Linked DNA regions of Homo sapiens. The protein of the gene in region 1 interacts with the protein of each later gene in a pairwise test. Each region holds a gene or a part of one and is shown in the gene's direction. Other genes may lie near its edges. The genes, in order: MPG and HSD17B14.

Region 1 (3,904 bases):
GGCAGGGGCCAATCTGCTCTCCAAGTGATTCTCTTTCCTCATAAGAAAGGTGGGGATAAAAACACCCCTCTGGGAGCCTCTGGACTCCCCGTGAGTTCTGCAAGGACCATGTATCACTTGTAACATCAGAATAAATATAAGTACAAAGTAACACCCATCCTCTCCCTGCCCATCAAGAGGACAAAGGCTCAACTGGGGCCTCAGTTTCCCTACTAGACTGAGGGGGAGCACTCGGGGGGATGGGGGGCTGTTCCCACAGGAAGGAGAGACTCATTGTTTGGGAGGCATGGCTGCAGATAAGCAGGGAGGGTGTGGAATCACATCCAGGGCTGCTTTATAAACACGGATTGATGACACATTATGCCCCCACCCCGGGAAGCGGCACACAGTGCTACAAACAGCTGGTGGCTTCCAGCCGGCTGATGGCCCCTCCCTCCCCAGGAAGTCCTGGCTGGGGCCCATGGGGGTGGGACGGCTGGTCAGAGGAGGAGAGGCAGTTGGAGACCAGGTCCTGCCCTGTTAGCCTTTCTGTAGGACCAGGTGTCACACTCATCTGAGGGCTCCAGACACATGGCCTGTGCGTCTGTCCTGCCCAGCGTCTCCCACCTGACGCGGCCAGGTGCCCAGTTGCTCTTCAAGGCCTTTTCAGGTGCTCCTTTCCAGGACCAGGGTCACAGAAGTCAAAGCTCAGGAAAAGCCCCTCGAGGGTTTTTGTGCGGCAGAGGTGGGTTGTGGGGTGGGATTGTGCCTGCCACAGTGGAGGGGCCCTGCAGACCCAGATAAACCTTCAAGTGGCCAGAAGCGGGGGATGGCTCTGCTGGGTGCTGGGGCTGCCATGGGCCGTGGGAGCCAGCAGTGTGCCCAGCTCCCTCAGGGCCCGTCCCCTAGGCCCTTCCGTCCACTGGGCCAAGCACCGTCCCTGCCCCTCCCTAGGGGCATGGATCTGACTTGAGAGGTTGTGAGAGCTTACAGGCGCTGGGCCGTCGGGGAGGCCTCAGAAGCGTAGGACGGCTGCGCACTGCCGGGCCGTGTTCAGCCCTGGTCTGGCCTCGGCCTCTAGAGGAGGCTGCCTGCGCTCCAGCAGGCCCAACCCAGAACGTGGGCGAGCTCCCTTCAGCATCCCTGGGCGGAAAGAGGGATGGGGGCTCTGCTGCAGAGGCAGAATCCGCGCCGCTCCCTCCTTCCTTCCCCCGACCAGCCTGTGACAACCCCGGCCAGGGGCGGGGGCCTCCGCACAAGCCTGGCGTCCACTTCCTGGATAAGGACTCCCCGGCCCACTCCGGACCAGGGCTGGGGCGGCCTCCCAGGCGCTCACTCCGCTGGCACCCCACCGGAAAACACGTCTGCGGCCCGCCCCCTCCCCCAAAGCACGACCACTCCGCCCGGGCCCCTCGAGGATCCACTCAGGTTCACGACGGGCCCGTCCTCTCGGTGGTCTGACCACCGGCTGGTGGAGTGGGCTCTGGGGCCGCCAGGCGACCAGGGCGCAGGCGGGGGCGGACAGCTCATTGGGAGGGGCGCCGGGGCACAGTGCGGGGCTCGCCCCACCCCCAGGTGCCCCTTCCCCGCTCTCGCCTCGCAGGCACCGCATCGGGCCCGGGAATCGGTCCGGACCTGGCGGTGGGCGCTGGGAAGAGGATCCACCTCCACGTGGCCCGCCCCGCCCCGGGGGCGCAGCCAGTTCCCGGCGCTCACTGCCCCCCTTCTCCCGGCTTCCGTCCCCTTCTGCGCAGGCGCCGCTCCGCCCCGGTCCTAGGGGTGCTTCCGTGGTCGGCGGCTGCTGGGCTCCGCGCCGGGGTCCGAGTCCCACGAAGCCCCGGCCCGAGCCGCCGGATGCCCGCGCGCAGCGGGGCCCAGGTGAGCGCGCGCCTCGGCCGCCCCGCGGAACAGACGCGCCCACCCCCAGGCGCAGCAGCGAGCGCGGCCGCGGGAGCGGGAGTGCCGGGGACGGGCGTAGCGCCCACCGCCCCGAGGGTTCGGGGCAGAGCCAGAGCATAGGCCAAGGGCCAAGCTCGGGCCGAGAGCAGTGGCCGCAGCGCCCGGGGGCTGAACCCACGGCGCGCTGGCAGCGCGGGCCGAGCTGCGGAGACGGTCACGTCAGCGTCCGTTCCAGGCCGACTGGCAGTCTCCGTTCTACATTAACGTCAGCACTCCCGTTAAAAATAATGCATCTCTCCCATGCCAGGAGGACTTAGGTGCTGCTAAAGACCAGCCCTCCGGGTGCTGCCAGGCCGGCGCTCACCCGCCACCTTCATCTTCCCTTCTCCTTTGCCCCAGGACAGCCGAGGATGTGTGGTTAGGTTCCCCCTACCCATGGGGAGGCCAGAGGTGGGAGGCTGGCGGCCTGCTCGGTCTCAGCAGACCCTCCTAGTCCCTCAGGAGACCTTGCCTTTGCCCCACTTGCTCGTTATCCAGCCTGGGCCATGAAGCAGAGGACAGTTAGGGACCCTGAGCACGCGGTGGTCACCCCGGTGCTCACCCCTCCCTGTGTGTCCGACCTTGGCCCTGCTAAGATCCTGTGTTTTGAATTCTGGCAAGGGTTGGATGAAAGGGCAGGGCTCCAGAAACCAGCTCAGACGTTTGCTTGGGACCTGCATGATGAGTGGGAATCGGAGGGCACCAGCCCTGCTGTCCCAGGCTCAGGCCCCCATCTGCTCCCCAGGTCATGCAGCCTGGGCCCCCATGCCGTGCAGCTCGCACATATGTGGGGCAGAGCAGCCACCCTGCCCCCAGCAGCAGCCGTCCATCGTCAGACGTGATCATTTCCTGAGGCCTCGAGTGTGTCAGGGTGTTTGTGCCTCATAACAACCCACAGGATGGTCACCCCCGCTTTGCAGATGAAGAAACCAAAGCAGGTGGTCAGATCCAGTCCTTGCACTTCCTGAGCCTGACCTTACCACACAGCTGTCTCCTATTCGGATGCTTATTTATTTTTTTTCCCATTACAGTTTTGCCGACGGATGGGGCAAAAGAAGCAGCGACCAGCTAGAGCAGGGCAGCCACACAGCTCGTCCGACGCAGCCCAGGCACCTGCAGAGCAGCCACACAGCTCGTCCGATGCAGCCCAGGCACCTTGCCCCAGGGAGCGCTGCTTGGGACCGCCCACCACTCCGGGCCCATACCGCAGCATCTATTTCTCAAGCCCAAAGGGCCACCTTACCCGACTGGGGTTGGAGTTCTTCGACCAGCCGGCAGTCCCCCTGGCCCGGGCATTTCTGGGACAGGTAATGTGAACATAGCAGCGAGGGCCCTCCTGAAGTGCCTGTCACTGCAGTTGTCCCTGAACCCCTGTCCGCTGCCTGCTGGATTGGCCCTCAGTTAGTCCTCCTTGTCCTCATGCATTTAGCGGCTTTGCTCACACTGGTCCCTGCTTAGCTTCATCTCAGTTGCCTGAGGTCATCTGGGAAGAATGTAGAGATTGTCAGTGCTGCTTGCCCAGGGTGGAGCAGGGGTGCCACTGTCTGCCCCCGGCTCTGGGCATCTAGGGCAGGAGCACTTGCACCGTTAGCCTTCCTCACCGGCAATCCACCTCAGTTTTTCCACACGTGGGAACTGTGGCTGTGGCCAGTGTCGGGCTGCCCCTTCCCGCTGTAGTGGCTCACAGTGCAGTGCTGGCTTCCCAGGGCCCCTGCAGCTTAATGTAGGTCAAGGATCTGGGCTCTGCCAATCAGACTTGGAGTAAGAAGCAGGGACTGCCCAGGTCCCATCCTGGTGGGGCCTACGGTGCAGCCTGTCCCCACGAGCAGATGCTCACACAGCCGTGGCATCTTGGCTGGATCTGTTGGGAGCGAGGTGGTGGCGGTGGTCCTCGATGCCAAAGCCCCAGGCCTGCCTTTCTGGTTCTCCAGAGGCTCCAAGGCCTTCCCTTTGTCCTTTAATGAGCCTACTTTTAGGTTATAATCAC
Region 2 (3,904 bases), on another chromosome or scaffold:
TGTTTTGCTTTATGAGGGGGATGGGTGTGGTTCTGGGAGAGTGTGACCTGGAGGCTGGCCCGTTCAGGGAATGTAGCCAAACTTCCTGGAAGTAATGAAATCTGAGCAGCATTGACCAGTGGAGGAGGTGGAGAAAGAGATGGCAGGGCGAGGGCCTGGCAGCGAGACAGGGTTTGGTGCTGCTGCCAGCTGGGCCCAGTGAGAGAACGGGATGTTGCAAGAAGAGATTGGGGTGGGAACCAGATCAGGCAGGGCCTTGAAGGGCATGCTGAATCATCTGGTCTTTATGTCAAGAGCAATAGGGAGCTGTGGCAGGTATTTGAGCAAGGGAGTGATGTGATCCTGTTAGTATTATTAACAGATCATAGGCTCTGGCTCCTGTAGGTATGAGGGACAAATCTGAGGGTTAAGCGTGAGAGTGGGAGAACCAGTATTAGGAGTTGATTGCATTTGAGCTGGGCATGGTGGCTCACGCCTGTAATCCCAGCACTTTGGGAGGCCGAGGTGGGCAGGTTGCCTGAGGTCAGGAGTTCGAAACCAGTCTGGCCAACATGGAGAAACCCCGTTGCTACTAAAAATACAAAAATTAGCCAGGCGTGGTGGTAGGCGCCCGTAATCCCAGCTACTCGGGAGGCTGAGGCAGAAGAATTGCTTGAACCTGGGAGGTGGAGGTTGCAGTGAGCCGAGATCGTGCCACTGCACTCAAGCCTGGGTGACAGAGCAATACTCTGTCTCTGAAACAAACAAACAAAAAAAGGAGTTGATTGCATTTGTCCAAGGGAGAAGTGGGGGCCTTCAAGGCCTCGTGATCTGGCCCCTGTTCTTCTCTGACCTCACCTCCGGCCACACTGGCCTCATTGCTCCCAAACACAACAGGCCTGCTCCTGTCTCAGAACCTTGGCACTTAAGAACTGGGGTCTCAGTATGTTGCCCAGGCTGGCCTTGAACTTCTGGACTGAAGCGATCCTCCCACCTCAGTCTCCCAAAGCACTGACATTACAGGTACCTGCCACTGCACCTGGCCCCCAGCGGGTCCTTGATATAGAGCAGGTGCTTAGCAACCTTGAGGGGTGTGGGGAGAAGGACACTCAGGGAGTGTGGGACAAATATTTACTGAGCTCCAGCTGTGTGCCTCGTGCTGGGGTGAGGGTGGCAAGATCCGTGTCTCAGCCCTGGTGAGACTCATGTTTGCAGGGTCAGGTGGGGGAGGAGATTAAACAGCAGGGCAGGTGCACAGACTGAGAGAGAAATGGAGCAAGGCAGGTGGGGTGGGCACTGGGAGGGAGGGAGGGTGTCACGGCTGGTGGGAGTGAGAGGAGGCGAGGATGAGAGGTTCCCTGAGGAGGAGGGCAGAGGCTGGTCAATGCCCACATCATTCACGTTCATATTAGAGCATGGTTTCTCTTTTTCTTTTTTCTTTTTTCTTTTTTTTTGAGACAGTCTTTATCTGCTGCCCAGGCTGGAGTGCAGTGGTGCGATTGTGGCTTACTGCAACCTCTGCCTCCCGGGATCAAGAGATTCTCCTGCCTCAGCCTCCCGAGTAGCTGGGATTACAGGCACGCACCACCACACCCGGCTAATTTTTGTATTTTTAGTAGAGATGGGGTTTTGCCATGTTGACCAGTCTGGTCTTGAACTCCTGACCTCAGGTGACTGCCCGCCTCAGCCTCCCAAAGTTCTAGGATTACAGGTGTGAGCCACTGTGCCTGGCCTAAAGTTCTTAATACTTAGAATTGTGAGAAATTGTTGTTTGTTTATGGGTTTGGGTCTCAGCCTGTCCAGCAGCAAATGCTGGTGCTGTCAGGTGTCACGTGATGCCCTGCGGGCGTCAATCATCCCTCCATTCCTTAGTCTCCTCGCTTGTGAAATGGGACTCTCAGCTGTACCTCCTTCTTGTAGGTACAGGAGAATGTTAGAGGGATGAAATGAGCTAATCCATGTAAATTGCTGAGGACAGGGCTGGACACATACCAGGTCCTCCATTCATTCATTAATTCACCCATTCATTCATTCAAAGGATATTTATGAAGCATGTGCTATGTGCCAGGCACCTTTAGTGCTGGGGAAGAAACAAAATAAGAAATCTTGACCATCCCTCATAGGTTTCTGCATGCTGGTGGGAGAGACAGAACATGAACAAACAAGTAAAATATATATGGCCTGTCAGAAGGGAGTGTGTGACACAGAGAAAAGACATCTGAAAGAGGGAAGGGGACCCAGGGGTGTGGGAACTGCAGTTTTATTTTATTATTTTATTTTTTGGGGCCAGGCGTGGTGGCTGACGCCTGTAATCCCAGCACTTTGGGAGGCCGAAGCAGGCAGATTACTTGACCTCAGGAGTTCAAGACCAGCCTGGCTAACATGGTGAAACCCCATCTCTACTAAAAAATACAAAAATTAGCCAGGCATGGTGACACATGCCTGTAGTCCCAGCTACTCAGGAGACTGAGGCAGGAGAAGGGCTTGAACCTGGGGGGAGGAGGTTGCAGTGAGCCAAGATGACATCACTGCACTCCAGCCTGGGCAACAGAGTGAGACTCTGTCTCAAAAAATAAAACAAAAAATATTTTTTTGTTGTTAAAAAAAATAAAGACAGGCCAGGCACAGTGGCTCAAGCCTGGAATCCCAGCACTTTGGGAGGCCGAGCCAGGCAGATCATGTGAGATCAGGAGTTCGAGACCAGCCTGGCTAATATAGTGAAACCCTGTCTCCACTAAAAAAAAAAAAAAAAAAAAAAAATTATCCTGGTGTGGGGGCACATGCCTGTAGTCCCAGCTACTCGGGAAGCCGAGGCAGGAGAATTGCTTGAACCTGGGAAGTGGAGGTTGCAATGAGCTGAGATTGCACCACTGCATTCCAGCCTAGACAACAGAGTGATACCCTATCTGAAAGAAAGAGAGAGAGAGAGAGAAAGAAAAGAAAGAAAGAAAGAAAGAAAGAAAGAAAGAAAGAAAGAAAGAAAAAGGGTCTTGCTAAGCTGCCCATGCTGGCCTCAAACACCTGGGTTCAAGCAATCCTCCCTCCTCGGCTTCCCAAAGTGCAAGGATTACAGGTGTGAGCTAGTGATCCTGGCTTGCAGCTTTAAACAGTATAGCCAGGGAAGACCTCACTGAGGAGGTGACCTCGGATCAGGGTTTGAGGGAGCTGAGGGAGTGTTTACCCAGGAAAGTCCCCGTTTAGCATTGACACTGTGGACTGAAAATACCATGTCCCCAAAAACCCTTCAGTCCTGGGCAAACTGGGATGGCTGGCCACCCTAAGAGTGGGTCATGTGGCTCTCTTAGGAAAAGGCACTCCAGGCAGAGGGAACAGCAAGTTCAAAGGCCCTGAGGTTTGAACACGCAGGGTGTGTCGAAGATACAGCACGGAAAAGGGTGGAGGTCGTTTGGGAGGGGAGCAGAAATGGCTTGAAAGAGTTGGTGGGGGGAACCGGGCAGGGAGCTCATTTAGATTCCCACTCGGAGAGCCTGCTAGGGGTGCTGCCTTGTACCAATTAGTCTTAAGTGGCAGGGACAGGCCTTGCCTGGCCAGCTCAGCTTTCTAAGGCAAGCGAGATCAAAGATAGAATTTGAGTTTATCCAAGGTCATGTGTAGTCAACGAACACACACGCACACACACAGAGAGAGTATTTAGGGACTTCCCAGGTGGCCAGGGAGTTGAATTGCAGGAGAAACGGTGGCAGGAAACAGTGCATTTCTTTTTTTTTTTTTTTTTTTTTCTGAAACGGAGTCTTGCTCTGTTGCCCAGGCTCGAGTGCAGTAGCGCAATCTTGGCTCACTGCAACCTCCACCTCCCGGGTTCAAGTAGTTCTCCTGCCTCAGCCTCCCAAGTAGCTGAGATTACAGGAATGCACCACCATGCCTGGCTAATTTTGTATTTTTAGTAGAGATGGGGTTTCATCAT

The links.
Region 2: the proteins of MPG (region 1) and HSD17B14 interact in binary tests that used the Homo sapiens proteins (3 or more experiments, as listed by UniProt).

Annotation. Positions count from the first base shown.
Region 1 is NC_000016.10:76,477-80,380, forward strand, and holds the start of MPG (DNA-3-methyladenine glycosylase), read left to right. Parts: upstream 1-1,748; 5' UTR 1,749-1,833; coding exon 1,834-1,857; intron 1,858-2,662; exon of another isoform or gene 2,663-2,816; coding exon of another isoform or gene 2,817-2,855; intron 2,856-2,948; coding exon 2,949-3,224; intron 3,225-3,904. UniProt on the Homo sapiens protein: Hydrolysis of the deoxyribose N-glycosidic bond to excise 3-methyladenine, and 7-methylguanine from the damaged DNA polymer formed by alkylation lesions.
Region 2 is NC_000019.10:48,815,838-48,819,741, reverse strand, and holds part of HSD17B14 (L-fucose dehydrogenase), read left to right. Parts: intron 1-3,904. UniProt on the Homo sapiens protein: Catalyzes the NAD(+)-dependent oxidation of L-fucose, yielding L-fucono-1,5-lactone, which rapidly converts spontaneously to L-fucone-1,4-lactone. Can also act on D-arabinose and L-galactose, with lower catalytic efficiency. Does not use NADPH.